Homo sapiens: one gene and its partners. The gene in region 1 interacts genetically with each later gene. Each region holds a gene or a part of one and is shown in the gene's direction. Other genes may lie near its edges.

What was found.
Region 2: changes in FARSA (region 1) and PSMD4 together harm fitness less than expected from each alone (positive genetic interaction), as found in Homo sapiens cells (one large-scale study listed by BioGRID).
Region 3: changes in FARSA (region 1) and TRMT5 together harm fitness more than expected from each alone (negative genetic interaction), as found in Homo sapiens cells (one large-scale study listed by BioGRID).
Region 4: changes in FARSA (region 1) and FIP1L1 together harm fitness more than expected from each alone (negative genetic interaction), as found in Homo sapiens cells (one large-scale study listed by BioGRID).
Region 5: changes in FARSA (region 1) and ASCC3 together harm fitness less than expected from each alone (positive genetic interaction), as found in Homo sapiens cells (one large-scale study listed by BioGRID).

Annotation. Positions count from the first base shown.
Region 1 is NC_000019.10:12,922,608-12,928,798, reverse strand, and holds part of FARSA (phenylalanine--tRNA ligase alpha subunit), read left to right. Parts: coding exon 1-44; intron 45-135; coding exon 136-264; intron 265-341; coding exon 342-457; intron 458-3,624; coding exon 3,625-3,709; intron 3,710-3,795; coding exon 3,796-3,895; intron 3,896-3,991; coding exon 3,992-4,160; intron 4,161-4,272; coding exon 4,273-4,350; intron 4,351-4,533; coding exon 4,534-4,648; intron 4,649-5,912; coding exon 5,913-6,051; 3' UTR 6,052-6,191.
Region 2 is NC_000001.11:151,263,643-151,269,579, forward strand, and holds the end of PSMD4 (26S proteasome non-ATPase regulatory subunit 4), read left to right. Parts: intron 1-271; coding exon 272-386; intron 387-1,189; coding exon 1,190-1,276; intron 1,277-1,523; coding exon 1,524-1,592; intron 1,593-1,751; coding exon 1,752-1,967; intron 1,968-2,361; coding exon 2,362-2,470; coding exon of another isoform or gene 2,471-2,479; intron 2,480-2,665; coding exon 2,666-2,797; intron 2,798-2,877; coding exon 2,878-2,945; intron 2,946-3,530; coding exon 3,531-3,701; 3' UTR 3,702-3,837; downstream 3,838-5,937. UniProt on the Homo sapiens protein: Component of the 26S proteasome, a multiprotein complex involved in the ATP-dependent degradation of ubiquitinated proteins.
Region 3 is NC_000014.9:60,970,070-60,976,260, reverse strand, and holds the end of TRMT5 (tRNA (guanine(37)-N(1))-methyltransferase), read left to right. Parts: intron 1-134; coding exon 135-786; intron 787-1,066; coding exon 1,067-1,152; 3' UTR 1,153-4,820; downstream 4,821-6,191. UniProt on the Homo sapiens protein: Involved in mitochondrial tRNA methylation. Specifically methylates the N1 position of guanosine-37 in various tRNAs. Methylation is not dependent on the nature of the nucleoside 5' of the target nucleoside.
Region 4 is NC_000004.12:53,456,095-53,462,507, forward strand, and holds the end of FIP1L1 (pre-mRNA 3'-end-processing factor FIP1), read left to right. Parts: intron 1-2,558; coding exon 2,559-2,696; intron 2,697-3,206; exon of another isoform or gene 3,207-3,207; coding exon 3,208-3,355; coding exon of another isoform or gene 3,356-3,434; 3' UTR 3,435-4,768; downstream 4,769-6,413. Other genes in the region: LNX1 (E3 ubiquitin-protein ligase LNX), read right to left, coding at 4,813-4,948, 5,341-5,499.
Region 5 is NC_000006.12:100,873,012-100,879,202, reverse strand, and holds part of ASCC3 (activating signal cointegrator 1 complex subunit 3), read left to right. Parts: intron 1-6,191. UniProt on the Homo sapiens protein: ATPase involved both in DNA repair and rescue of stalled ribosomes. 3'-5' DNA helicase involved in repair of alkylated DNA: promotes DNA unwinding to generate single-stranded substrate needed for ALKBH3, enabling ALKBH3 to process alkylated N3-methylcytosine (3mC) within double-stranded regions.

The DNA of each region.
Region 1 (6,191 bases):
ATCTCCAAGCAAGAGACAGAGCTGAGCCCAGAGATGATCTCCAGGTAGCAGGCAACCCCAGGGTCAGGGCAGGTGGGAGCTGGGGCAGGGGGCAGGGGCGGGCAGCCCTTACCAGGCCCTTGCATCCTCCCCCAGTGGCTCTTGGCGGGACCGGCCCTTCAAGCCCTACAACTTCTTGGCCCACGGTGTCCTCCCCGACAGCGGCCACCTTCACCCGCTGCTCAAGGTCCGCTCCCAGTTCCGACAGATCTTCCTGGAGATGGGGTGAGCACAGGGCTGGGGGCGGTGCCTGGTGCTTCTGCTGGGTACAGGCAGGGCAGTCAGGCTGTGTCTCCCACCAGGTTCACCGAGATGCCGACTGATAACTTCATTGAGAGCTCCTTCTGGAACTTTGACGCCCTCTTCCAGCCCCAGCAGCACCCAGCCCGTGACCAGCACGACACCTTCTTCCTTCGAGGTGGGTCAGCCCCTAGGGCCTCCCTGAGACATGAGAGACACCAGGCCACGGCGGAGCCTTTACAGGATGGGCATCCCATTTGATCAAATTAGGTCTAGAACTGGGCATGGTGGTGTGCACCTGTAGTCCGGCTATTTGGGAGGCCAAGGCAGGAGGATTGCATGAGCCCAGGAGTTCAAATCCAGCTCAGGCAACATAGGGAAGAATCTACCTCTAAAAAAATTAATTGAGTTAAATTAAAGTCCATCCTTGTTGGATGTGTCAAGCTCTGTTCTCATTATGCCACCTGCAGTCTTTTTTTTTTTTTTTTTTTTTTTTGAGACAGGGTCTCACTCTGTCGCCCAAGCTGGAGTGTGCAGTGGCATGATCTTGGCTCGCTGCAAACTTTGCCTCCCAGGTTCAAGCGATTCTCCTGCCTCAGCCTCCCGAGTAGCTGGGATTACAGGTGCATACCACCATGCCCAGCTAATTTTTGTATTTTTAGTAGAGATGGAGTTTTGCCATGTTGGCCAGGGTGGTCTCAAACTCCAGTCTGCCTCGGCCTCCCAAAGTGCTGGGATTACAGGCGTGAGCCACCGCACCTGGCTTTTTTTTTTTTTTTTTTTTTTTTTTGAGACAGTCTCATTCTGTCGCCCAAGCTAGAGTGCAGTGGCACGATCTCAGCTCACTGCAATTTCCACCTCCTGGGTTCAAGCGATTCTCCTGCCTCAGCCTCCTGAGTAGCTGGGATTACAGGCACCCGCCACCACGCTCGGCTAATTTTTGTGTTTTTAATAGAGATGGGGTTTGCCATGTTGGCCAGGCTGGTCTGGAACTCCTGACCTCAAGTGATACTCCCGCCTCAGCCTCCCAAAGTGCTAGGATTACAGGCGTGAGCACCACGCCTAGCCCAAAATTAATGAATTTTTGTTTTGTTTTGTTCTCACTATGTTGCCCAGGCTGGTCTCAAACTCCTGATCTCAAACAGTTTTGCCTCAGCCTCCCAAAGTGCTGGGATTACAGGCATGAGCCCCCACACCCTGCCTGCCCCCATGTCTTCTTTGGGCATTCCAGGCCGTGCACACCTCAGGGCCTTTGCTTATGTTCCGTCTTTAGCCAAGAGCTGTTTTCTCCCAGATCTTCAAGGCAGGCTGCAGCCTCAAATCTCTGCTCACGTGTCACCAGAGACAGGCCAGCCTAACACTCCCGGGCTCACCCCGAGTTCTACAGAAGCCCTTCTCCCCTAGTGTTCATTCTTCTGTCCCATTTCTTTCTTTCATTGCCCTTAGCACTGTCTGAAATGGAATGACTTCCCACAATGGGGTGGCCTTCCTGACCAAGAGGGCAGTTGAGGTCATTGGGTGCCGGCTTACCTGGCCAGAGGAGCAACATCATTCTTGTCATTATTGTCATAGCACCCAAAACTTACTAAGCACTCATCACATACTAGCCACTATTCTAATCTTCCTGCCAACTACTGGAAGCAGTACTGTTACCCCTTTTTACAAAGAAGGAAACTTGGCCAGCCTCAGTGGGTATAATCCCACTGTTTGGGAGGGCAAGGGAGGAGGATCGCTTGAGCCCAGGAGTTTGAGAACAGCCTAAGCAACATAGAAAGACCCATCTGTACAAATAAAATTAGCTGGGCATAGTAGTGCACGCCTGTAGTTGCAGCTACTCGGGAGGCTGAGGTGAAGGATTGCTTGAGCCTGGGAGTTTGAGGCTGCAGTGAGCTATGATTGCATCACTGCACTGCAGGCCAAGCAACAGAGCAAGACTTTGTCTCTTTAGGCCGGGCGCGGTGGCTCACGCCTGTAATCCCAGCACTTTGGGAGGCTGAGACGGGCGGATCGCGAGGTCAGGAGATCAAGACCATCCTGGATAACACAGTGAAACCCCGTCTCTACCAAAAATACAAAAACAATTAGCCAGGCATAGTGGCGGGCGCCTGTAGTCCCAGCTACTCGGGAGGCTGAGGCAGGAGAATGGTGTGAACCCTGGAGGCGGAGCTGGCAGTTAGCCGAGATCATGCCACTGCACTCCAGCCTGGGTGACTGAGCGAGACTCCGTCTAAAAAAAAAAAAAATTTTGTCCCTTTAAAAAAAAAAAATAGGCCGGGCGCGGTGGCTCACGCCTGTAATTCCAGCACTTTGGGAGGCCACGGTGGGTGGATCGAGACCATCCTGGCCAACATGGTGAAATCCCATCTCTACTAAAAATACAAAAATTAGCTGGGCATGGTGGCGTGTGCCTGTAGTCCCATCTATTCAGGAGGCTGAGGCAGGAGAATCACTCGAACCTGGGAGGCAGAGGTTGCAGTGAGCCGAGATCGCGCCACTGCACTCCAGCCTGGGCGACAGAGCGAGACTCCGTCTCAAAAAAAAAGAAAAAATAAAAAGGTCGGGCGCGGTGGCATGATCCCAGCACTTTGGGAGGCCCAGGCAGGCGGATCACTTGAAGTCAGGAGTTCGAGACCAGCCTGGCCAACATGGTGAAACCCCACGTCTACCAAATATAAAAAATTAGCTGTGTGTGGTGGTGCACTTCTGTAATCCCAGCTACTTGGGAGGCTGAGGCAGGAGAATTGCTTGAACCTGGGAGGAGGAGGTTGCAGTGAGCCAAGATCATGCCACTGCACTCCAGCCTGGGCAACAGAGCAAGACTCCATCTCAAAATACATACATACATACGTACATACATAAATAAAGCCCAGGTGCAGTGGCTCATGCCTGTAATCCCAACACTGGGAGGCCGAGGTGGGTGGATCACCTGAGATCAGGAGTTCGAGACCACCCTGACCAACATGGCGAAACCCCATCTCTACTAAAAATACAAAAATTTCCCGGGTGTGGTGGCAGGCACCTGTAATCCCAGCTACTTGGGAGGCTGAATCAGGAGAATTGCTTGAACTTGGGAGGTGGAGGTTGCAGTGAGCCAAGATTGAGCCATTGTACTTCAGCTGGGCCAACTGAACAAGACTCTGTCTCAAAAAAAAAGAACCCAAAAAAGCCACACACAAATGAGAAAACTGAGGCACGAGAATCACTTGAACCTGGGAGGCAGAGGTTGCAGTAAGCCCAGATTGCACCACCGCACTCCAGCCTGGACAACAGTGAGACCCTGTCTGAAAAAAAAAAAGGGGTGGGAAATGCTCGTTGACTGACCTGATGTTGCTCTGTCCTGCCCAGATCCAGCGGAGGCCCTGCAGCTCCCAATGGACTATGTCCAGCGGGTCAAGCGGACCCACTCTCAGGGCGGCTACGGCTCACAGGGGTGAGGCAGGACTTACCTGGTATGGAAGGGAAGGAGGCTGGGGACCCCTGGGCCATTGCATGGACTTCCCACCTTCCCTCCTGAAGGTACAAGTATAACTGGAAGCTGGACGAGGCCCGGAAAAACCTACTGCGAACCCACACCACATCAGCCAGCGCCCGTGCGCTCTACCGCCTTGCCCAGAAGGTGCGGTTGGCCCAGGCGGGGGCCCCAGTGGGGAGAGGGTGCTGTCAAAGGGACCTTCTGACCCATACCTGGGCCTGGCTCGGTTGTCACCCCTAGAAGCCCTTCACTCCGGTCAAGTACTTCTCCATCGACCGCGTATTCCGGAATGAGACCCTGGACGCCACGCACCTGGCTGAGTTCCACCAGATCGAGGGCGTGGTGGCGGATCATGGTCTCACCTTGGGCCACCTCATGGGCGTTCTGCGGGAGTTCTTCACCAAGCTGGGTGAGCAGGGGGGCAGGGGTGGGCCATGGTGGTGAGGCAGCGGGCAGGTGTGTTGATCACCAGCATTATCCTCCAAACCCCTGCTCTCCTGCCCGCCCCCCACTTCCTGCAGGTATCACGCAACTCCGCTTCAAGCCAGCCTACAACCCATACACAGAGCCCAGCATGGAGGTGTTCAGCTACCACCAAGGTCAGGGTAGGCCCTGGTACTGGGGTGGGAGGGAGGTCTCAGGCTACTATGGTTTGGCCTGGGTCCCCCCATTGCCATGCCTGTACCCCACCTCCCAAGCTCACCACCTAGACCCAGAACCTGTACCAGCAGTGCCCAGAAACTCAACACGCACTGCCCGTCTTTTCTGTCCTGCCTCTGCAGGCCTGAAGAAGTGGGTGGAGGTCGGAAACTCGGGGGTCTTCCGTCCAGAGATGCTGCTGCCCATGGGGCTTCCCGAGAACGTGTCGGTCATTGCCTGGGGCCTCTCCCTGGAGCGGTAAGTGCCCAAGTGGAAACTCGGGGTGTCCAGCTGCCTCAAATAACTCTCCAGGTATAGGGGCCTGCGTGGTTTCAGCACCACCCATTCATTCATCCAATGGACAAAACTTTCATCGTGAGTACAAACTGAATGCTCAGCCCCGTGCTGTGAACATGACAGCTTATGTCCCTCCCTCTGAATCTGGGGTCCCAGTGGAGCGAGAAGGATGATAACTAGCAAGACCAACAAGTACATCAGGCCAGGCGTGGTAGCTCATGCCTGTCATCCCAGTGCTGTGGGAGGCCAAGGCAGGAGGATCGCCTGAGCCAGGAGTTTGAGATCAGCCTGGGCAATAGAGCAAGTCTCCGCCTCTACAAAGAATAAAAACAGGCCAGGCGTGGTGGCACATGCCTGTAATCCAAGCACTGTGGGTGGCTGAAGCAGGTGCATCACCTGAGGACAGGAGTTCGAGGCCAGCCTGGCCAACATGGCGAAACCTCATCTCTACTAAAAATATAAAAATTAGCCTGGCGTGGTAGCAGGTGCCTGTAATCCCAGCTACTTAGGAGGCTGAGGCAGGAGAATCGTTTGAACCCAGGAGGCAGAGGTTGCAGTGAGCCAAGATCATGCCACTGCACTCTATTCTAGTCTAGACAACAGAGTGTGACTCTGTCTCCCGTCTCTACTAAAACTACAAAAATTAGCCAGGCACTGTTGCGTGCGTCTGTAGTCCTAGTCCTAGGTACTCAGGAGGCTGAGGTATGAGAATCACTTGAACCTGGGAGGCGGAGGTTGCAGTGAGCTGAGATTACGCCACTGCACTCCACCCTAGGTTACAGAGTGAGACTCTGTTTCAAAAAAACAAATGCACTCAGCAAAAGAAGACAGAAGTGTGTACCAGGGCAGTAAGTGGTATAGGGAGGGCTAAGGCAACTACGTGGTCAGTGAAGGCATCATGGAGGAAGAAGTGCCACCTAAGCAAAATCTAGAGGTAGATAAAGAGGTAAACCATGAGAGTATCTGGGGAAGGGTGTCCCAGGTAGTGGTCACAGTCAGTTCAAAGGCCCAGAGGTGGGAATGTGCTTTTTGTATTAGGAGAAGAGTGAGGAGGCTGGTGTGGCTGAAGGCGGAGGGTGAGAGGTGATAGAGCAGTTGGCGCAGGGCCCTGTGGGTCATGGGGAGAACTTGAACTTTTCCTCTGAAGAAGATGGGAGCCATGGAAATCTGAGCAGAAGGGTGCACGTGCTGACCTCATGATAAACTCTGTTCCCTCCCCCACAAGCCCAACGATGATCAAATATGGCATCAACAATATCCGGGAGCTGGTGGGCCACAAGGTGAACCTGCAGATGGTGTATGACAGTCCCCTGTGCCGCCTGGATGCCGAGCCGAGGCCCCCTCCCACACAGGAGGCTGCGTGACATGGGCCACTCTAGGACAGGTCATCCTCCCCGAGTCCCTGCTGCTGCGCTCCTTTGCATCCCTGGCCAGTGACCTTGTATTTATGAGGCCTCTGTGAGGCCAGCCCCCACCTTCCTCTTTCCCACCTGTCCCAGGACCA
Region 2 (5,937 bases), on another chromosome or scaffold:
ACAGTGAAACCCCGTCTCTACTAAAAAAAATACAAAAAATTAGCCAGGCGTGGTAGTGGGTGCCCGTAGTCCCAGCTACTTGGGAGTCTGAGGCAGGAGAATGGCGTGAACCCGGGAGGCGGAGCTTGCAGTGACCCGAGATCACGCCACGCACTCCAGCCTGGGTGACAGAGTGAGACTCCGTCTAAAAAATAAATAAATAAAAGTTAGACACAGTTTAGAGGTACTTGTGCTGACCTGAATTCACTGAAATGCTTTTCCTACATCCCAGTGACTGTGAAGTGCTGACCACACTCACCCCAGACACTGGCCGTATCCTGTCCAAGCTACATACTGTCCAACCCAAGGGCAAGATCACCTTCTGCACGGGCATCCGCGTGGCCCATGTGAGTCCTACTGGGTTCCCTGGACCTTTCCTCCCTGCTCTGAGGTCCTGCCTCCATCATACTCATTTCTCCCCTGGAATCCTGAGCTAGGACCAGAGCAAGAGAAAGCTAACTTGGAGTAGAAAGGATATGGGGGATGAATCCCAGGGTAGTTGAGGGTTGTGAAGGGAAAAATCCCTAGAATTGAGAATTAAGGCTGGGCGTGGTAGTTCATGCCTGTAATCCCATCACTTTGGGAGGCCAGGGGAGGAGGATTGCTGAAGGCTAGCAGTTCAAGACCAGCCTGGGCACATAGGGAGACCCTGTTTCTCTAAAAAAAAAAAAAAAAAGGCCGGGCGCGGTGGCTCACACCTGTAATCCCAGCACTTTGGGAGGCTAACACGGGCAGATCACCTGACGTCACGAGTTCGAGACCAATCTGGCCAACGTGGTGAAACCCCATCTCTACTGAAAATATAAAAATTAGCCAGTACTAGGAAGGCTGAGGCAGGATAATCGCTGGAACCCGGGAGGTGGAGGTTGCAGTGAACTGAGATCACGCCACTGCACTCCAGACTGGGCGACAGAGCGAGACTCCATCTCAAAAAAAAAAAAAGAGAGAAAGAGAATTAACCTCCCTTCTTTATGCACAGAGAGTCATAGCAAAAAGGGAGGAGGTGGGGGTGTTAAATCTTGTGTGAACGTGATGGTAGATGGTGTACTTCAGGTACAAAGAAACTGTAAGAAAAAGGGAACCGAGTGACAGAGGAAAGAGCTGAGTGATTCCTCTGGTTAACTCTGAGAACTTCCTCTCCCTTTACAAGCTGGCTCTGAAGCACCGACAAGGCAAGAATCACAAGATGCGCATCATTGCCTTTGTGGGAAGCCCAGTGGAGGACAATGAGAAGGATGTGAGTCCAAGTGGCAGCTGGGGAATGTGGGGAGCCCATGTTTGGGACTGAGGTCTTCCAGCCCTCAGGAGAACCTGGCAGAGGCATCAGGCTCATCACTTTGGGGAAAGGTGAATGTGGAGAATTCAGTGATTCTGTTGGAGGACCTTGGGGAGGTCAATAGATTTCTGTATGCTTTTATGCGGCGGGTCCTTTCCCCCCCTCGAGTATGGAACAGATTTCTTGATTTTTCTCCCCTTCTTCCCAGCTGGTGAAACTGGCTAAACGCCTCAAGAAGGAGAAAGTAAATGTTGACATTATCAATTTTGGGGAAGAGGTGAGTAGGGACTGATTGGAGGGCATTGACTTAATTTGGTCATAAACAGAATGGTCCTTAACCCTGAGGAGTGCGGGTACTGTGGCAGAGTAGTGCAGAAATGGGAAAGAACAGGGAGCAAGGCCTGAAGAAGGGCATCATGTGTTCTTTCCTCCCCAGGAGGTGAACACAGAAAAGCTGACAGCCTTTGTAAACACGTTGAATGGCAAAGATGGAACCGGTTCTCATCTGGTGACAGTGCCTCCTGGGCCCAGTTTGGCTGATGCTCTCATCAGTTCTCCGATTTTGGCTGGTGAAGGTGGTGCCATGCTGGGTCTTGGTGCCAGTGACTTTGAATTTGGAGTAGATCCCAGTGCTGATCCTGAGCTGGCCTTGGTGAGCAAATGTTGACCCCAGGTAGAGTCCAAAGGTCCCTCTTTGTTCTCTTCTGGCACACACATCACAGAGCTTCTATCAGGCTGGATAGTCCTAGACACTACCAATCACTCATTTTCCAAGACCTCCTTTTGCCGCCTCTTCCCTATAATGCTGTCTGATCTCTAGGGGCACCAGTGTCAGATGCTTTCTTGTTCACTTCTGATGAAAACCGAGGCTTCTCCCAAGTCCTTACTTTTTAATCCCGTACCACTGCTTATCCCTCCAGCTTCTTCTCTGTGTGATAAACCAGAAGCTGCCCCTTTATGTTCCTTTCCCACACCCCAACTGACTTTCCCAGCTCCCTGTAGGAGTGAGGGCAGGGGAGCCCTGATTATGCCCTGCCCTTCACCAGGCCCTTCGTGTATCTATGGAAGAGCAGCGGCAGCGGCAGGAGGAGGAGGCCCGGCGGGCAGCTGCAGCTTCTGCTGCTGAGGCCGGGATTGCTACGACTGGGACTGAAGGTGAAAGAGGTGGAATCCGAAGTCCTGGGACTGCGGGATGCTAAACATTGAAAGCTGGGTGTAGGCACTGCAGGGAGAGTGTGGAGGTCTGACAGGGTAGGAATATGTGGGAGGGCTGGGCTAGGAATGGCCTTGGAGGCTGGCCTGTGTGGATATGGCACCAATTCTACCCTGCTCCTCTTTTCCTTTTCCCAGACTCAGACGATGCCCTGCTGAAGATGACCATCAGCCAGCAAGAGTTTGGCCGCACTGGGCTTCCTGACCTAAGCAGTATGACTGAGGAAGAGCAGATTGCTTATGCCATGCAGATGTCCCTGCAGGGAGCAGGTGAGCCAGAGCCTGGGTGGTGCCTAGGCAGAGGTTGGGGTGAGGAAGTGTAACTGAACAGACTGACCTCTCTTCCTCAGAGTTTGGCCAGGCGGAATCAGCAGACATTGATGCCAGCTCAGCTATGGACACATCTGAGCCAGCCAAGGTGAGACCCAACCCTGCCCCCATCAGGTTTAAAGTCCTTGAATTTAGATCCTCATCCCTCTGGGGCTGGGAGTATTTCTACCATAGCTAAGTCCTTTGAGGAGCAGAGGGAAACACATGGATTTGCATTTCTTACATGTAAACCTTGCTAAGGTAGCAATGCTAATGGTCAGAGTTGGAGAAATGTCCTCTTGTTCTGTAATTTTCCTTTCTTGCTGGTGGGAGCAGCCTGGGCAGTTCTCTAGGATGTCTTCCCAGGAGGGAAAAAAGCGGGTCTGGGAAAAAGAAAAAGGAGAACTGGGTGTCTTGAGAGCAGGAAACCTCAATGTGATGGCATCTGTTTTTCTCCTCAGAGCTCAATTAACAGAGTTCTCAGCAGGCCCCTCTATTTGGTTAGTAATAACTGCATTCATGCTGTATAAAGGATTTTGCTGACTTGTCCTTTCCTTACGTCGACCAGAGGTGCCCAGATCCCCACACAGTCAGAAGGCAGGGGGCCTCTGGCAGCGGCATGCTCCTGTCCTTAACACCTGCTTACTTCCTGCCGCTCCATACCCTCCCTTGAGCTCACACTGCCTGTTTGCAGGAGGAGGATGATTACGACGTGATGCAGGACCCCGAGTTCCTTCAGAGTGTCCTAGAGAACCTCCCAGGTGTGGATCCCAACAATGAAGCCATTCGAAATGCTATGGGCTCCCTGGCCTCCCAGGCCACCAAGGACGGCAAGAAGGACAAGAAGGAGGAAGACAAGAAGTGAGACTGGAGGGAAAGGGTAGCTGAGTCTGCTTAGGGGACTGCATGGGAAGCACGGAATATAGGGTTAGATGTGTGTTATCTGTAACCATTACAGCCTAAATAAAGCTTGGCAACTTTTTTTCCTTTTTTGCTTCAAATATTGATGGTTTTGAGTGTGAGAGAGGGGAGGAGTCCCTGGCCTGAAGGAGAACCTTCCTTGTTGAGTTCTCTATGTCTCTGTTTCCACCTGTCTGGGCCTCCTAACGTGCTGGGATTACAGGCCCAGGAGCCAGGTTTCCATTTCTAATGAACGAAGACCTTATTTAAACCACCTTCTTGCCAATAACTTTTACTCTGCACTCACACAGCTGAACCCCAAGCATGGAATGATACTCAACCTTTTCAGTTTTTTCATGTGGACTTCTGAGGTTCAGCAAGTTTAGGTTATTTGGCCAAGGATATTTAGCTAATGAAGAGGCAGAACCAGGATCAAAATCCAAACTTGTCTCAGACCTGTCTCGCCAGGAGTTGAATCACCACCAAACAGTAGTTTCCCATTGGTCAGCTGCCTTCAGTGACTCTGCTCAGCCCTGCAAGTCAGTTCCTTGTAGCAACTACTATACCTTCCTCTACTCCCCGATCACTCTCAACAGAAGCCTGACATCTTTACAGAGAGTCAAGGCCGTGAGGCAGGAAGTTCTGGCTCCCTCCCTCCTGCCAGCACCTCCCTGCATCAGTTATGCTGTCTCCTGAGTCTCTGCTGTCCTAAACACCCTGCTGGCGTTTTCCTCTCAGTGTACATGCATAAAATCCACTCTACAAGTAACCTTACCTTGAGACTTTATATTATACGGTTTAAATATTATTTTACAAGGAACATCTATTCCCTTTATAATTTTTTTTAAAGTTTTTTTTTTTTTCAGCCAGGTGCGGTGGCTCACACCTGTAATCCCAGCACTTTGGGAGGCCGAGGTGGGCAGATCACAAGGTCAGGAGTTTGAGACCAGCCTGACCAATATGGTGAAACCCCGTCTCTACTAAAAATAGAAAAAAAATTAGCCGGGTGTGGTGGCACACGCCTGTAATTCCAGCTACTCAGGAGGCTGAGGCAGGAGAATTGCTTGAACCCAGGAGGCGGAGGTTGCAGTGAGCTGAGATCATGCCACTGCATTCCAGCCTGGGCGACAGAGGGAGACTCTCAAAAAATAAAAAATTAAAAAATATATATATATATTTTTATTTATTTTAAACAAAGTCTGTGCTCTGTCACCCAGGCTGGGGTGCAGTGGTGTGATCATAGCTCACTGTAGCCTCAACCTCCTAGCCTAAAGGATCCTCCTGCCTCAGCCTCCTGCATAGCTGGGACTAAGGCACACACTACCACGCCCAGCTAATTTTTTTTTTTTTTTTTTGAGATGGAGTCTGTCGCACAGGCTGGAGTGCAGTGGCACTGTCTTGGCTCACTGCAACCTCTGCCCCCCAGGCTCAAGCAGTTCTCATGCCTCAGCCTCGCAAGTAGCTGGGACTATAGGTATGTACCACCATGCCTGGCTAATTTTTAATTTTTTTTATAGATATGCGGTCTATGTTTCCCAGGCTGGTCTTGAACTCCTGGGCTCAAGTGATCCTCCCACCTCGGCCTCCCAAAGTGCTGGGATTATAGGTGTGAGCCACCGTGCCTGGCCTATATAGTTTTAAAAGTTAGATTTGTAATAAAAATTGGTAGGGTCCTGCCCTACCCCTCTGCACTCTTGAGGTCTACTCCCAGAAGTAATCAATTTAACTTCTTTAGCTAGCTCTTCCTGTGCTTACTTCCTTATTCCCAAAGAATGAACTTATATGGCTATTTCTTAATTTTTCCATTTTAGCCATTATCTATACTGTTTACTATAGAATATTATAATTTAGTTTTTTTTTTGTTTTCGAGGCAGAGTTTCGCTCTTGTTGCCCAGGCTAGAGTGCAATGGCACGATCTCTGCTCACTGCAACCTCCGCCTCCTGGGTTCAAGCGATTCTCCTGCCTTAGCCTCCCAAGTAGCTGGGATTACAGGCATGTGCCACCACACCCGTCTAATTTTTTTATTTTTGGTAGAGACGGTTTCATCATCTTGGCCAGGCTGGTCTTGAACTCCTGACCTCGTGATCTACCTGCCTCGGCCTCCTGAAGTGCTGGGATTACAACGCCTGACTAATTTTTATATTTTTTTTGTAGAGACGGGGTTTCGCCAGGTTACCTAGACTGGTCGTGAGCTCAAGCA
Region 3 (6,191 bases), on another chromosome or scaffold:
CTGTTGTTTGGCTCTTACAGTAGTAAACTTAAATGTGTATGTGTTTGCCTGTGTGTATACACAACCTATCCAATATCAATGGTTAGGATTTAGGACCAAGGAAATTAACCAAAAAGCATAACACCTTTTTTCAGGTTCGAGAAAACAACTACACCTATGAATTTGATTTTTCAAAAGTCTATTGGAATCCTCGTCTGTCTACAGAACACAGCCGTATCACAGAACTTCTCAAACCTGGGGATGTCCTATTTGATGTTTTTGCTGGGGTTGGGCCCTTTGCCATTCCAGTAGCAAAGAAAAACTGCACTGTATTTGCCAATGATCTCAATCCTGAATCTCATAAATGGCTGTTGTACAACTGTAAATTAAATAAAGTGGACCAAAAGGTGAAAGTCTTCAACTTGGATGGGAAAGACTTCCTCCAAGGACCAGTCAAAGAAGAGTTAATGCAGCTGCTGGGTCTGTCAAAAGAAAGAAAACCCTCTGTGCACGTTGTCATGAACTTGCCAGCAAAAGCTATAGAGTTTCTTAGTGCTTTCAAGTGGCTTTTAGATGGGCAGCCATGCAGCAGTGAGTTCCTTCCCATAGTGCATTGTTATAGCTTTTCCAAAGATGCTAACCCTGCTGAGGATGTTCGGCAAAGGGCTGGAGCTGTGTTAGGCATTTCTCTGGAGGCATGCAGTTCAGTTCACCTGGTAAGAAATGTGGCCCCAAACAAGGAAATGCTGTGCATCACGTTTCAGATTCCTGCCTCTGTCCTCTACAAGAACCAGACCAGAAATCCAGGTGAGCAGTTTCTGGGAAATTAAATGTAAACCTTGCCATTCAATTGTAACTAATTCCTCCCAGTTTTACAAATTTTAATGCAGTATTAGTTCAGTCTAATAGAAAGCTACTGTGTTAGTTCAGTCTAATAGAAGGCTATTTCATTAAAATAGTAAATCTGCAAGAATGTTATTTCATGTTTAAGTTGACTAGATTAAAAATGCCTATATTGTTTGTTTTTTTAAGAGTATTTTCAACTGTTAATATCTTACCTAAAATAGGTTTTCTGGATTTATTACAGAGAATCATGAAGATCCACCTCTTAAAAGGCAGAGGACGGCTGAAGCCTTTTCAGACGAAAAAACACAAATTGTTTCAAACACTTAATTGGAAATGTTTTCTCCATCTCCCTACCAGACTTACATGTAGTGAAATAGAATTTGTATTATTTAATAAAATTTTAGGGTTTGGTTTTTACTATTGAACCCTTGTACTTTGCCTTATTTTACAAATTGAGGATTACCAATTAAACTTTAACTGAACTAAGGCTACCAAATACATTCCCTGTTATCTAAATTATAACATACAATTATTTTATAACAAAATATATCTAATTTTTATTGGATAAATATGAATAAATATTTTCTCTCAGGGAAAATAATTTTTGAAAGTAGGGTGATTGAGTACTAACTAGGAAGGTATTAACACCACTTTGTAGTTGTCCTTTACGTAACTACTCCTTTACTGCCAATTAACTATCACCATAAAAGTAATAAAAAATGAAATTATTTAGAACGGGGCAGGCAAACTACATCCTGCAGGCCAAATCTGTCCCACCACCTGTTTTCATATGGCCTGTGGCCTAATAATGTTCTTACGTTTTCCATTGGTTGAAAAATAATCAAAAGAACATTTTGTGACGTGAAAATTTTATGACATCTATTATGTATCAGTTTTAAAAATTAGAATTGTATGAAATTAAGAGTTTCAGAGTTCATAAAGTTTGATTGGAACATACCATGCTCATTTGTTTACATATCATCTGCAGCTGTTTTTTGTTTTTAATATGGAACGCTTCACGAATTTGCATGTCATCCTTGCGCAGGGACCATTCTGATCTTCTCTGTACCATTCCAGTTTTTTAGTATATGTGCTGCTGAAGTGAGGACTGCAGCTGCTTTCTTGAACAATAGCAGAGTTGAGTGGTTGCAACACACACTGAATGTGACTGTCATCACTTCACACTGCTGTTTGACACATCACAAATCACTGATGTGGTTGTAACGACAGCATTTTGAGTGCCATGTATATCACATGAACCCACATTTTATTTTTTATTACCAGAGCATATCTATTATAGCAAAACAAGAAAAGTGGACTTTGTTGTTATTTTTAAAGTACAGTAGGGTGTGAATTATTTTGATGTTGAATTAGACGACAAAGCATCTATATAGCTAAGCTAAAAGAATAACCATTGACATTACCAGACAAACCACTCATCACAGTATTCCCAACTCACAGGCAAGCAACTGTTAGAAAAATTAGAAAATTTAAAATGGAAATAACAAAGCAGAATTTCTTCACAAAATGAAAATGAGGCTGCAACAACAGTAAGTCTCTAAGTCAATCATTTGTTAGCCAAGCAAAGCCATTTATTGATGGTGTGAATTAATTATGTTTGGATGCAGCAGCTGAATATATCCAGAGAAAATAAACTTAAGATTACTGGCCTTTGGCAAGAACAGTTGCTTAAAGAGTTAAGGACATTGAAAGCGACATAAATAGTCACTTTAAAAAGGAAATGATTCTGGATGGTTCTTTGACTCTATTTTTATTTTTACTTAGAGACAGGGTCTTGCTCTGTTGCCCAGGCTGGAGTGTAGAGACACAGTTACACCTCAATGTAACCTTGAACTCCTAGGCTTGAGATCTTCCCATCTCGGCTTCCCAATGTGTGAAGGTTACAGGTGTGAGCCCTTATATGTGGCCCTCGTGAATGGTTTAGCACTATCCCCTTGGTGGTGTCCTTAAGATAATGAGTTATGAGATCTTGTTGTTTCAAAGTATGTGGCACTCGCCCCCCACACTCTCTTGCTCCTGCCTTCGCCATGTGAAGTGCCTTCTCCTATTTTGCCTTCTACCATGAGTAAAAGCTTCCTGAGGCTTCCCCAGAAGCAGATGCCAGTGCTATGCTTCCTATAGCCTGGAGAACTGTGAGCCAATTATACCTCTTTTCTTATAAATTACCCAGTATCAAGTATTTCTTTATAGCAATGCAAGAATGGCCTAAAACACAAGGCAAAACAACTTTGATATGGTACAGTCATTTTGACAATCGATATTTGAATCACAATATTTGATGACAATATCCTTACACATTTGTCATACTATCAAAGAGAAAGAAACAAGATTTCCATTCCCACAAATTTTAGTGAGTATATTTTCTGAGTTCAGCATTTTTAGGGACCTAGGTGCAAGTGCAAAGGAAATTTCCCTGTTTCAAAATCTATTTAACTGCAATTGAGGTGATTCAACCTAATTTTCAGTAAGAAGTGATTAAAATAATGACATGCTAAAAGGCAAATTTCAAGGGAAGAAATGTAAAAGAATTTTACAAATGCTTTCCAAGTGATGAATATGCTCAGTTAATTTCATATGCTCCTGGATTGATAGCAGTATTTGGCAATACCTATCTGTATGAGAAGACATTTTTAAAGATGAAATGTGTAAAATCTTATTACCATTAGTATTAATGGTTAATGATGGTTAATGATAACCATTAATAGGCAATCATTTACAACTGATTTTGATCACAGGGAACACTTACTTAGAACCCTGATTAGAGGCAATGTTATTCTCACCAAAAAAGGCATTACAAAAAATTGGGCTATATTTTGAATTTTGTCAATTAAAAAAGCGTGGGAGCAGTGTGAAGGAGAAGAGGCAAGAACGACCCCTGGACCGACCAAAGCCCGCGCGCTGCTGCGTCCCACACCCGGTGCCCACATCCCGCCGCCGCCGCCGCCGCCATGCCCAAGAGAAAGACTGAAGGGGATGCTAAAGGAGATAAAGCCAAGGTGAAGGATGAATCACAGAGAAGATCTGCGAGGTTGTCTGCTAAACCTGCTCCTCCAAAGCCAGAGCCCAAGCCTAAAAAGGCCCCTGCAAAGAAGGGAGAGAAGGTACCCAAAGGGAAAAAGAGAAAAGCTGATGCTGGCAAGGAGCGGGAAGGTGCTGGAGATCCCAAGTGAAGTGTGTGCATTTTTTATAACTGTACTTCTGGTGACTGTACAGTTTGAAATATTCTTTATCAAGTTTTATAAAAATGCAGAATTTTGTTTTACTTTTTTTAAGCTATGTTGTTAGCACACAGAACACTTCATTGTTGTTTTTGGGGGAAGGGGTATGTGTCACTAATAGAATATCTCTGAAGCTGGATTGATACGGGGAAAACATCTTTCCCTTCTAGTTTTGAGAGACTTCCTCTTGGCTCCCAGGAGGAGGGATTTCCTGACTTTGACACACATGGCCACCTTGGCACAAAAGCCTTGTGGTATGGAAAAACAAATTCGTTTTTATGTCTTCTTTTCCCTTTCCATCTTTCAGCATAGACTTAATCCCCTTAAGCCCAGACATCTGTTGGGACCTGACCCCCGGTCATTGGTTACCAGTGTGTCTGGCAATCTGGACTTTCCAGTGATGCCACTGAGATGGCACCTGTCAAAAGAGCAGTGGTTCCATTTCTAGATTATGGATCTTCGGATAAATTCTGCCATTTTCATTTCACTTCCTGAAAGTCAGGGTTGGCTTGTGAAAAGTTGTTAAACAACATGCTAAATGTGAAATGTTAACCCTCTAAACTTTCCCTGTTCAGAGCATCAGATGAGGACTTCATTGGGTTTTATAGCGGCTGATTTTTGGTAGTCCATTGAAGAAGAGAGTTTGAAAGTTGTATACTGTTAATGACTGTCTGCCCATGTCCTGCCTGAAATACCATGATTGTTTATGGAAAGTATCTTTAATAAAGCTGGATACAGTTTGAAAGAAAAAAAAAAGTGTGGCAATTTGTTTTAGCTTGTTCTGTAAGTACCTACATAATATCCACGATTTTGCTTGTTACCCTGCAAAGCCTAAAATATTTACTATCTGGCCCTACAGAAAATGTTTAAGAACCCTAATCTAGATCATTAATTACAAATTCAAATGCCTTCAGAAGTCTGGCAGGTCATGTAAACAAATGAAGGCAATAAATGATAAGCAGTATAGGGATGTAATGAACTGGAACACTCATTCTTACTTAATTCAAATTGTTTTGAAACAGCCCAAGTATTGTACACTGATGTCCTAGGTTATAAAGTATGTGTACAAATGATGTTCTTATTTATACATGTAAAGTGGTAAGACTCTTGTCTCCATTTAGTTACTCTGGACAAAATATGCAATATGTAATTGTAAAGAAAACAGAACTAGATGTATCTATTAACGTTTTAACTTCCCCCTTTCAGAGTGGATAAGTGATTATTCATTATTTAAATCTAGGTCCACCCTAAACTTTCAGATGTGATACCTAGTAAATGAATTCCTGATGAATCTACTAGAAAATGACAGCTAGAAAGCTGGAAAGCTCATTAGATACAATTTTTAATTTTGTTAACTTTTTGACAGGTTTTCTACCACCTTAATTGGATTTTAAAATAATTATCTGACAACCTGTTGAGAGCCTAAAGACAACTTCTAAGAGAAGCATAGTTGAAATATTCATTGAATCAAATTAAGGAATACTAAGTAATCATGTATACTAACTATGATGTAAATGTATTCTGTACCATTAATATCTGCTTAAGAGGGAGTATAGTTATTAGTAAAATCATTTTCTACATCATGAATTTCTCAGAACTTCTCTTAGGACATCAACAAGATCATTTAGTTGATGTCATTTATATCTCATAAAAGATCTAGATACTTGATCTGTAGAACCTCCTGGAAGTCTTATGAAGTTCGACTACCAGGACTAGTTTTAGCACAGCAGTTGTTTGACAGTCATCTCTAGAGCATGGCTTCTGGAGTCTGGCTGCCTGAGTTCAAATCCCAGCTCTGCTATTTTTAAGTTATATGACTGTTGGCAACTTACCTAACCACTGTCTCAGCTTCCTCATCTGTTAAAATGGGGAAAATACTAGTAGAACTGTTTTGAGGATTACGTAATACACAAAGCATGAAGCAGTGCCTGGGACACAGGTAATACAGTAGTTGTTAATTATTACTTCTGTACTCATAAAATACTTGAAGACTTAACTCATGTAGATGAAAGATATGTACAGCCTTTGTCTCTAAGAGTAAATCACTTGGATGGTAGGGGATAAGCACATCAATTTAGAATATTTCTGTTGTTTGGTAAATTCAGTGAATTCACTAAACCTCAGTGA
Region 4 (6,413 bases), on another chromosome or scaffold:
CTAATGTGGAAATGAATATATGTGAGATAGCATTGCTGTCTCTAGAATGTACATGTTTATAAGTAAGGAACTTAATGCAAAACTTGATAGGAAATAAGAGTAAAATAAATTGCTTTGCCAAGCAGGACTCATAAATTTTCTTTGCATAAATAACACATTGTTTATAGAAGATTTGGCTAAATCCTCTAATTCTTCTGCTTCAAATACATGCACAGATATTACTGAGTTTTTATTGAAACTTAAAAAGTGTTAATGTTTAAACCACATTTGATATTCAGGTTGCTGAACTGTAGGGCATTAGGAGTCAATGTTTACCTAAATTTGACTAAAATGTTTAAGGCCACAGAGGCAAAAAGTGGAGGAATTTTGAGTTGTTCTGAATTATCCCAGGAAAAAATTACACTCTGGAAAATCCAAGTGAAGTATAAGTAAAGGTTTCTGAAGGCTGGTATTTTAGCAGTATGGCATGTAGTATATGTTGCTTTACAAATTACAGGGCCATTGTTTTGAAAATTACAGGCCAGTTTCAACTTCTGTTTTTTAGGGAGCTTAATTATGGGCCAGAAAGAAGGCTGGTCATTCTAGGATGTTTGAAATGAACTCTAATAATTTCCAGGTCCAGAGAAACCTTTGTGGTTCAGCCACTTATCAGAAAAGGGGATGGAAGGAGGAGGGTCTTTATATTTTGTGTGTAGGACCCAATCTTCTACCATCTGTTATAAGGTTCCCATCACAGGGCTGCTTTCAGAATCTAAAGGCTCCAGGTTCAACAAGAGCTGGTTTTAGGGTAAGAGGAAAAAGAGTTAACAAATGACACATTATGAGATAATTGACTTTAACTATTTTTATGTAAATCTAGTTGGAGTCATTGAAAAGCCTCATTTTTTGAGAGAAGTTAACTATATTTATTTCCTATGGTGCTAGTTTATTCTACTTGAAGACATGATACTAAAAAGTTCTGCTTCTGAAAAAATTAAGCATTAAATTCACCAAGGACTGTCATTTATTGAGTGCCTACTCTCATACCAAGCACTTTATAAATGTTGTCAGTTCTGTAAGAAGTCTTGAAAAAGACTGTTGGCAATTTTACAGGTGAGAAAACCGAGGTTTAGAGAGGTAATAGGTAATAGCCTCGGTCACTCATTTAGTAAGTGGCAAAATCAGGATGTGATCCTGTGTGTACTCCACTTGTACTCTTTCTGCTCCTCTCTACTGACTGGCATGGCATGTTACTTTTCAGGTGACATGCCTCCACACTCCAAATACAAAAGTACATATTTATGGGTAGAAAAAAATAGTGGAAATACATATACAAATATGTGCAAATGTGTATATTAATACATTTTCTGTTTTTTTAAATAAGATTCTAAAATTTTAATGTATCACAGATAATAACTTGGTCAGCAGTACAATTGGGCATTAAGCATAGCATTAATGAATCATTACTTTTGCTAGAACACAGGCTGACATGTCTTTTAAAACATGGCTTATAGTTGTCACCTGACTATGTTAAACCCTGAGATTCCTTACCATCTTGATGTTTCATACAAATTACTACTTTCATAATTCATATTAAACACTTCTAGAAATCAAAGCTCTTCAGCATATTCTTCTAAAAGATTATTTTATTCTAAGTGAATTTACTGATGTTAAGTTGTAGAAAGTGTTGACTTCTATGCTAAACATAAAAAAAGAAAAAGGAAGAAATAAGAGACTTGAAGGATAAAGAGAAAGATGGAAAGAGAATGTCAGTTAAAGGACATGAAAGGAAAAGAAGTCTAGGGAGGTAAAGAAAGACCACCCTCTAACTCTAGCCATTAGTCTCAGTTTCACCAGTCTGTGTAATTCAATCCAAAATCAGAAAATGGAGATGCAGCTTCTATTTATGCAGTTGAAATTATTAGCCATGTAGCCCCCCTGCCCACACAGATGTAATTAGGATGTCAGAATGCAGGTATGTCCAATCTGCATTTTGTATGGATGCTGTAGAAGTTGCTTTGATGTCTCTGTTCTTTATTTTTATACTTCTCTATTTGATGAATATTTAGTAATAAACCTAAAGTTTAAAAACTTATTTGCTTTCTGTTTTGTAGTAATTGTGAGTCGTGTATTTTTATAATGTTAAACGTATGTCCAAGACTTTCCAAGAATATTGATTAGAAATCTGAGATATACAAATACTATTTTAATTCTAAAAGGAGCAAAAATTTTAAAAGCTGATAACAATTTAAATCAGTTGCAGATCTCACTTTTTCAAGAAATGAAAAAACCAAAGCATTGTTATATTAAATCTTTTTAACAGCTATGAAAGCACAGAACAAAATTGGTCATTTAACATGTGTAATTATTATATATTTATATTCTTAGCTCTAGTGCTATTTTGAGAACAAGCATTATTTTCCTCTCAATTCAACGAATATTTCTTCCTCACTAATGTTATAAAAGATGCTAATGTGAGGATTTTGGATTTGGACTGCAGATCACATCTCTTTTACAGTTTGAATCCATTCAGAATTAATGGTCCAGTTGTCAAGAAAACATTTCTATTTCAATTTCAGCGATGAAGAACGATACAGATACAGGGAATATGCAGAAAGAGGTTATGAGCGTCACAGAGCAAGTCGAGAAAAAGAAGAACGACATAGAGAAAGACGACACAGGGAGAAAGAGGAAACCAGACATAAGTCTTCTCGAAGGTTTGCTCTTTAATAAAATAGTGAACCAATAGTATGTGAGAGATTTTGACTTACTACATTGTCGCATTGGAAGAGGGGAAATTTTGGCCTATGAACCAGTCTTGCTTGGTTTCATTAAAGAAAAATTCAGGGCCTTGTCTCAAATTTTTTTAAAAAAGCATTAAACAAAATACCTATTGTTTGCCAAAAATCAACCCTATACAGTATTTCCGGTTTTGAGTTAATGCCTGTTTCTAATTTGTTACTGTATATTATAATATGCATTTCAGAAGCTGTGTATAGGCACTGGGAATCTGAGATAATATCAGTGAAGATGGCCCTATAAAATAAATACAATCCCTGCATAAAAGTCACATAAAACTGATTATTCCTCACATTATATTTATGAGAAAATGCATTAGATTATTTTAAACCCAGTGTTATATTGAGAATTTCCTTAGAGTGATTGGATTTTTGTCACTGATTGTGTATTTAAACAGAACACACCTTTTTTTTTTTTTTTTTTTTCCAGTAATAGTAGACGTCGCCATGAAAGTGAAGAAGGAGATAGTCACAGGAGACACAAACACAAAAAATCTAAAAGAAGCAAAGAAGGAAAAGAAGCGGGCAGTGAGCCTGCCCCTGAACAGGAGAGCACCGAAGCTACACCTGCAGAATAGGCATGGTTTTGGCCTTTTGTGTATATTAGTACCAGAAGTAGATACTATAAATCTTGTTATTTTTCTGGATAATGTTTAAGAAATTTACCTTAAATCTTGTTCTGTTTGTTAGTATGAAAAGTTAACTTTTTTTCCAAAATAAAAGAGTGAATTTTTCATGTTAAGTTAAAAATCTTTGTCTTGTACTATTTCAAAAATAAAAAGACAGCAATGACTTTATATCCAAGAAAGGAATGTGAATGAGTCACTTAACAGGGAATCTAAAGAGCTGTGTTAGCTGTGTACATACACAGATTATCTGAGAAAAGGTCAAGGGTTCCACTTGGGCCACAGTTTTTTTGTTAATCAAACACCACTCTCTTAAGAGGCTGCATCACAAAAGGCAACAAAGGGCCCCTCTAAGGCTTGAGATTAAAACTAGTCTTTATCATTACTGCTGTGACACTCTTGCTTAGTATATTAAGAGACTCATACATTTTTGATATCACAACTTTTTGATGGCTTTTCAATATTCTAAATTTGGGTTCCTGGTGAAACCAAATGGGGTACACTTTCATATCCAAATTAATAAAACCTATAAGGCATCTGGGTGGCCTCTATGAAATAAATTAATTAATTACCCATAGTGTAGTTTCTAGGAGGCATGTGTACACACACTCTTCATTGTGGCACAAATTTAAATCGCCTCATGACCATGTCTGTGAGCCAGGGTCAAGCTGGTTTGGCCTTCTTGATGCATTTTCCAAGGCCCACTGGTGGAGCAGCATGAGTTTTTATACAGTTACTAACGATTGTGGAAAAAAAGAGCTTTAGCCATTTCTTACTAAAAACAAAACAAGTTTATAATTAATTCTCTGAGCGAGCATTTTTAGGGATAAGCCTAGGAGGTATTCATCGGTGATGGTAACAAATAACATGGTATTTGAAAGAATAAATTACTAGGATCTTTTAAATAGTGATAATACAAAAGTAATCTTAATTAGTATCACATACTAAAAGACAACTATAACTTCTGAAAAATATTTATTCTTGTTTGATGAAAGCAACGTTTCTCAGCAATGCATTTTAAAAAATATTTTAGCTGTAAATTAAAAATGGCCATAATGTACCCTTGGCAGACTTCAGCATATACCAAATTTTAAATTTAAATCAGCTTGAATTCAGTGGGGTATACAAATCATTTTAGTTGTTTTAGGGCTTTTTATTGAATAGAAAAAATATAAACAATGTTGTAGAGTAATGAGAAATCCTCCACACTGAAAAAAAACTAGTAGTTTTAATTTTTTTGGAATCATATTTTCTGAGGTGTAACTGGCTTTCATTAGATGATCATACTTTTCCTGACATTTTTACAATGTATTCTTTCTTTAAATATAAAAACTGACAAGATAAATATAGTGTTTCAACTTCTTAGCCTATTTGTGATTTTTCTGTTTTCCTCTGACCCATCATTGATTCTATAAAAAAGTGCCAGGCCAAGAAACAATAGTTAGAGTAATTCTTCCTTTAAGTTCTTTCAGCAGTCTTGCCAAGCAAGCATGTATCATTCCTGATGTACTTCTACCATTGACAGCAAGAAGAATATCACCACATCTAAAAAAAAAAACAAAACAAGATATGATTAGTATTTTAATTCGTTGCTGAAGTTAATGCAAGTTTATCTTAGTGGTGCTAGATTTTGCTACATCTGACCATTTTAATTATGTTAACTTCTAATTGAGATATTTCTTGCCTCTTATTTACATTCTCCAAACTCACTATCCATTCAGCTTGTGTTAGAAGGAATGCTAAAAGTATGGGGAGTTGTAGTATGGGACCAAGAATATGTGTAATTATTTTGGATTTCTCAGAAGTTGAATGCTACGTACATACTTTTAATCCCCACAAAGTATAATAAATACATGCCTTATCTCAAATGGGGCCAAGCTTTGGCATTTATGAAACAACATTTAATACAAGTATTTTTGATTAGTCATTATTATTACCTAATTCTTCCATCATTGTATGCTGGTGTTCCTTCAACAATGGATTTGATGAAAAAAGGTTTGTTTCCATTGTATTCTTCATAACCTCCTACAATGCAGAAGCCCAGACTTCCAGCTGTGTTTCTTCGTAATACAATATCTTTACAGTTATACAAGCACCTGAAATAGAATGTAATCAGTGTACATGCATATTTAAGTTTCACAGTTAAGGGAATACTTACTGTGACTCATCCTCCATTCCTTTTGTTGGCATTTTTAATGGCTAAGTACCACTGCATAGGTCCCACTCAAAATTGTATCATACCTTGGTGACCTTTGTGCTGTTAGCTGGCTTTTTGTAATTGAACCTGTTTTCCATAATTTTGAATATCCTTAAAAAACTGACAGCCCTATTGTGTTCTGTTACACATCTACTGGGAATGATAATCATATTTTTAACTTAAGACAATGCTTGAATATGTATTAGCAAAAAGTTGGATAAACCTAAATCCTTATTGGTGAACAAACACACTTATGGATGTCATATTTTTATTTACTTGATATAATTTTAATGAGGGCAAAAATCCTTTGAATAATCTCAATGAAAGCAGTTTAAGCCTAATCCTAATAAATGAATTCGTATACTTTTTTTGACCTTGGAAAAATACCACTTTACACCCAGTGCTACGTTTGATAAGTCATAGAGAAGCATGCACGCATAAAGTGAATGGAAACAGAAACGTTTAAAGATTATAAGAACAATTCAAATAGGAGGAAAAACAAACTGCAGGAAACTGGATAGGAAGTTATAAAAGGAATGGGAGAAGGAAAGGCCCAGCTCTTCTGTAAATTAGAATCCTCAACTAAAATAGCAAATGAGATTGAAGAAATTTTTATTCAGTGGCCCCCAATGGATCAGTGTTCATATAGGTACAGGCCAAGTGTTAACTATGTTATAATTGCCATAGAAGTGTGTGTCAGGAGCTGAATTTTACTCCAGGATGACGTTGTTGACCACATTTGTAGCTGTAGTCCGGGAATTGGTTTGAAAGGAAATTGGCATTTTCATGTTGCCAAAAATCAGATATGGCTAT
Region 5 (6,191 bases), on another chromosome or scaffold:
CTTGGAAGTTCTGCATGGAAATTCCCTTCCCTTATAAATTACCCTATCCTATGTATCTGTTCATCTGTATCCTTTGTAATATCCTTTATAATAAATTGGTAAACGTGTTTCCCTGAGTTCTGTGAACCACTCTAGCAAATTAACCGAACCCAAGGAGGGGGGTCATGTAATCCCCAATTTATAGCTGGTCAGTCAGAAGTACAGATAAAAAAGCCTGGAGCTTGTAATTGGCATCAGAAGTGGTGGGCAGTCTTGTGGGATTGGGCCTTCAATCTGTGGGATATGACAGTATCTCTAGATAGTGTCAGAAATGAATTGGAGAACACTCATCTGATGTCTGCTGCAGAAGTGATTGTTTGCTTGGTGCATGGGGAGAAACTCATACACATTTTGTCACAGACATCTTCTGTGTTGATGGTTGTCGTGTGAGAGCAGAGGAAAAACGGTTTGAGTTTTTTCCACTCTCACAAGAGGGCAGGCGTAAATTCCTTCAGTCTGCCTCCCAGAGGCTCATGGATTAGGGTGGAATGAGAATTTTGTCTTTCAGACATAATCTGTGCTAGGCCCTTTTCCACTGGACTTTCGTGGGAAGAGTTATAATACATACTGCCTAATATGTGCTGGGTCTGTTCCACGTTTTCTTGTGCTCGTTTCATCTTTGTGGGATATTCTGGAATTTTCTTTCTGACTATGCTTGTCCTTATCTGGTGTTAAAATATTTTTTTTTATTTGTTTTCCCAAGGACATTTAAAGGAAAAGCCTTCCTTACCCTGTGCTAAAAGTAAAATTAACACAACTTTGGGGGGGAATATTCTGAATATAAAGACTAATCTGCTTTATAGTTATGAGCCTGTCCAGGATTTTTTTCCCCCACCTTTGAATGGGAAACCTAGTTAGAGGATAAGTTAGAGAATAAGAGCCCCATAGAAATTTGGTTGTTTTTAACCATTATATATTTTGTATTGTGTGAAAAGTGTTTATGTGTTTTATTATTTTTGTCATGCTTTCTCTGTTCTGCATGCTTCAGATGTGTTTCCTAACTTGATTGAGAACTATTCAGGAGCAATTGCTTCTTGCTTAAGAATGAGTTAGCATCTAAAGTGAACTTGTTAGGTGGAAACTGTGAATAGCTAAGATTACCTTTGAGAATCCCTTAAAAGGACATCAAGTTGGCATAACATGCTGTCTCTCAGCATGTCCTACACAGCCATGTTTTTCATCCTGACTTGGAATGTATCACAGTTTCTTTAGATGAACTCCCAGTGAAAAAGTTGCTCTGTGTTTGGTCACCACCTTGTATGTTTTTTAAAAAAAGAGAAAAAGTGTTAAAAACTAGAATCATGCAATGCAGCAAGATGCTCACATTTTGAGATGCATGTGGTGATTGAAACAGACTAAAAGAGCAAGATTCTTGTTGCCCATCCCCCATTCACTCTGGAGCAGATATTCAATACCTGAAATGGTAAGCAGAATCTCTAGTAATTATTGTTTTTGTCTGTCTCTGCCTTCCTTTTTTTGGCCTACAGTGTTTGGTAGATTCAAGAAAGTTAAATGTGCCTAGACTCTGCTGTATGAACCAATTGATGGTAATAAGGTTTAATACAAGTAAGAAATTAAATTATCTTTAGGATTTATCATGAAAAAATCACCCCCTTTTGAAATCGCATAATGGAGGATTATAAATATGTGTCGACGATGGTTATTTTCTGAGTTCTGATCTTGCTAATGTTAACAATATCACAACTCAATTTTTAAAAAAGGCACAATAAAATATAAATATTCTTATTCACTGTTTAATATTTATTCACTGTTCATTTTTCAAGGTGTGGTTTGTGGGTACAAGATTCTATTTTAAGTACTGAAATCTTAAATTCTAATTTTACTCCATTTACAACCTACTCCTTCATGTCAGTGTTTTTATCCCTTAATCTGCAGTATATCACTTTGACTATTTTTGTCCCTTTAATAATTCCCTAGTATCCATAATTGCCAGTAACTAAGTGCTGACTTTAAACTTATTAGGAAATATAGTTTGGCTGTTTTGGAGATCTTTTCATATTTTTATAACGAAAAAATACAGTAACTATCTTTTCCTAAAGTTGCTATCAAGCAGTCAGACCATCTTTAGAGTTTAGAAACACAGGTTTGGTTTAAGAAGAATAAACATTACAATTTTAAATGTAGTACTTCAGAATAGTGTGTACTGGAATTCTAGCTCACTGATTATTGGTTAATATCATCTTGCAAAAGGAAATATGCTACCATCAGTTTAGTTTTCTCCTTATTTGGAATGTAAAAAAGGACAGTTACATTTTTAAGACTTTCTTTTTACCTGTACGTATGTTTAATTAACAATTTAAAGATTTGTTCAGATAGCCACAGCCAGTACTTCTGACGAACAGAAGTAGGCTTTTAGGGTTTCAATCCTTTAGAAATTATATTTGTTCTGGGGCATTAAATATTTATTATTAACAGAATTTTTCATTTATATATTTGTCATTTAGTGGACCATATTAAATGTGGAGTAAAAATTAGTAAGGTAAAAATTGATATGTAGGCCAGTTTTTCTTAATCCTTATTCACTGTGATCTTACCAGAAATTTTAACTATGAATGTTATGATTCATCTTTAAGACCTCCTAGTTGAACATCTTTTCCTTTCATCTAGGCCTAAAGTTAAGCACTTAATAACCCTTATCATTTAGGCTTCATTGTCCCACTGCCTCTGTGTTACAAAACCTTAACCCTGGTTCACACCAACCTTTGTTCCTATGCCAGATTATTGCCACCTTAAATTGTTTGCAGTATGAGCTGAGCATTCATTGCTACCTGAAAAATATTTCTTCTATTATTGTGGGTGGTAAGTTCAGACTTTTGCCTCTGTGTTAGAAAAAATCCCACCTCATCACCTGTTTGAACAGTCTTAGCATATCTCAAATAAAATCAGAGTCATTTTGGTGGAACTCCCTTTTACCATGTTTTTCTCTCCTCATTCACCCTCTGCTTAACCATGTTATAACCATATGCACTTCCACTCATCCTTCCTTCCGTACTCCTTCATCTATCCAAGTCTCTCTAGACCTATGCTTTTGTTGTCATTCTCGCCTGCATTCTCAGAGACCCTACTCCATCAGTCACAGTCTTTCTCCTGATTGCTCAACTTTTCCTTCTCTCTTTGCTCTCCCCTGATTATGATAAAATCATGATCAACTCTATCCTTTATTTTCAGAAACTCTTAAACCACATTATTTCAGTATTTCCTACTTTTTCTCCTTTTCTTTCTCATTTTCTTGAAAGAATAGCATGTACCCATTTGTAGGGTTTTTTGTTTGTTTGTTTGTTTTTTCCCTATTTTCTCCCTTTGCGTTTATCCTTCAACTCACTGAGATTTAGCTTCTACCATTTTTGGAAACTAGGTGTGCTAGTCATCTAGGACCGCAGAGTGGCTGAGTACAGTGGACTGTATCATGTCATTTGAAACTTTCTTTTCTGTTGTCATATCACTTTTCCATATGACAACTGATTTGTGGATCACTTTCTTAGAACTCTGTTCTTAACTCTCTACTGTCTACTTCCAAGAGGCCTTTAGGGGTGGAGTGCATGAATGGGCATTCATGCAGCTTTTGAAATGGAGTACAAAATGTTGTTTATATGTATGTATGTCTGTTTTCTTAGGAAGAGGGTCCATGGGCTTATGTATATTTGACTTAGACAATATTATGTTCATCCATGGTTTTAACTATGATGAAGTGATAACATGAAATTCTGGATTTCCAGCCCAGACCTCTGATAGGAAATCCAAAACCATATGCCCCACTTGATAGCCCATAATTAAAGTTTTCCAAAACAGAATTATCATTCCTCTTCCTGATGCCCTCTATACATATAGACTCCTCCACTCTTCAACATTTCCTAAGCCAGAAATTTGAGTGTCCTGCTCCTTTCTCCTTCTTTAAATCCTATTCCACATTGATTCTGTCTTCCAAGTATACTGATCTCCTAAATCCATCCTTTTATGTGTTTCCCTGGCTTAATTCTATCCTCTCTGTCTTTCAGTTGGTTTATTGAAATAACTTCCCAACTGGTTTGCCTGTGTCCTGTTTGACCCCACCTTGACAGTTCACCACATGTAAATCTGAGTAATTTTTCTGTAACATGTTAGTATTTTTTCAGTGATTCTGATTATCAGAATGAAAAGTGCCTAATTTGAGACATGTTGTTTGGTCTCTGCTTACATTTTTAGGTCTTATTTCATCAGTTTCCAAATGCACATTCTGTAGGGGTTTTAAAAGTAATTAAGTCTGTTATTTTGGCTTTCCCCCTCATAGTTTACCTCTTGTAATAACCTTGTCTAGGTCCTTTAAGTCTCAGCTCAAGCTCAGCTTCCTTCTTTATATCTAGTGCCCTCCCACCCCTTTAGATGCTCCTTCCCTGTCTTCCTACAGTTATAGCTGCATAATTATTGCAACTATTTTTCTTTCTTCCCAACCATACTGTAAGCTCATCATTGAGGGCAAGTGCAATCATATCAAAATGTTTTTCTTTTTTTAATCTCTAGAGCCTCATAAAATATCTAATATATGGTGGGTGATCTATAAATATTTGCTTAGTGAATGAATAACATAATATTTAAAATTTGTTTTCTCAATTTGACCTTTATACATTTCAAATAAAACTTAAAGGGAATCTTTTTCCTGGTACAAAATACAATGAGTTGTTTTTTTTTTTTTTTTTTTTTTGAGACAGAGTCTTGCTCTGTTGCCAGGCTGGAATGCAATGGTGCGATCTCTGCTCACTGCAACCTCTGCCTCCCGGGTTGAAGTGATTCTCCTGCCTCAGCCTCCTTAGTAGCTGGGACTACAGGTGCGCACCACCACGCCCAACTAATTTCTGTATTTTTAGTAGAGACGGGGTTTCACCATGTTGGCCAGGATGGTCTCAATCTCTTGACCTCGTGATCCGCCTGCCTCGGCCTCCCAAAGTGCTGGGATTACAGGTGTGAGCCACCGCGCCCAGCCTAAAATGCAATGAGTTTTGAAGAACTGTAAACTTCATTAACATCCAGTGCCTAGCCCAGATCCTAGTAGATAGGAGAAACTCAAATATTTGTGTATAAATGATTTATAGGTAACAATGAACTAATGAGCTGTTACATTTTTAGTGTTGCTCATTCAACCTGGGGAAGAAAACACATCAAATAAAAATAGCAAATCTGGTAATGTGCTTTGCTTCATTCCCTTAACAAGCATAATTTCATGCTGATTATTTTGATAAGATCTCAGGGAGCTTTACTTGATGTGTTTCCAGGATTTGTTTCAAGATTTAGAGCTCTTTTTAGCAGTTTTTGTAGTGCTGGCTTGGTAGTGGCGTGTTCTGAGCATTTGTTTGCCTAAAAAGACTGTACCATCCCTTCATTTATGAAGCTTAGTTTTGCTGGATACTAAATTCTTGGCTGATAATTGTTTTGTTTAAGGAGGCTGAAGATAGGGCTCCAATCCCTTCTAGCTTGTAGAGTTTCTGCTGAGAAATCTGCTGTTAATGTGATAGGTTTTCCTTTATAAGGTTACCTGGTGCTTCTGCCTCACAGCTCATAAGATTCCTTCCTTCATATTAACTTTAGATAACCTGATGACAGTGTGCCTAGGCGATGATCTTTTTGTGATGAATTTCCCAGGTGTTCTTTGAATGTCTTGTATTTGATTGTCTAGGTCTCTAGCAAGGCTGGGAGAGTTTTCTTAGATTATTCCCCCAAATATGTTTTCCAAACGTTTAGATTTCTCTTCTTCCTCAGGAACGCTGACTATTCTTAGGTTTGGTAATTTAACATAATCCCAGACCTCTTGGGGGCTTTGTTCATATTTTCTTATTCTTTTTTATTTGCCTTTGTTGGATTGGGTTAATTAGAAAACCTTGTCTTCGAGCTCTGAAGATCTGCTTGTTCAATTTTATTGCTGAGACTTTCCAGAGGATTTTGCATTTCTATAAATGTGTCCATTGTTTCCTGAAGTTTCGTTTCTTATTTATGTTGTCTATGTCACTGAAGATTTCTCCCTTCATTTATTGTTTATTTAAATTTCCATAAATTGGGCTTTGCCTTTCTCTGGTGCTTCCTTGATTAGCTTAATAACTGGCCTTCTGAATTCTTTTTCAGGTAAATCAGGGATTTCTTCTTGGTTTGGATCCATTGTTGGT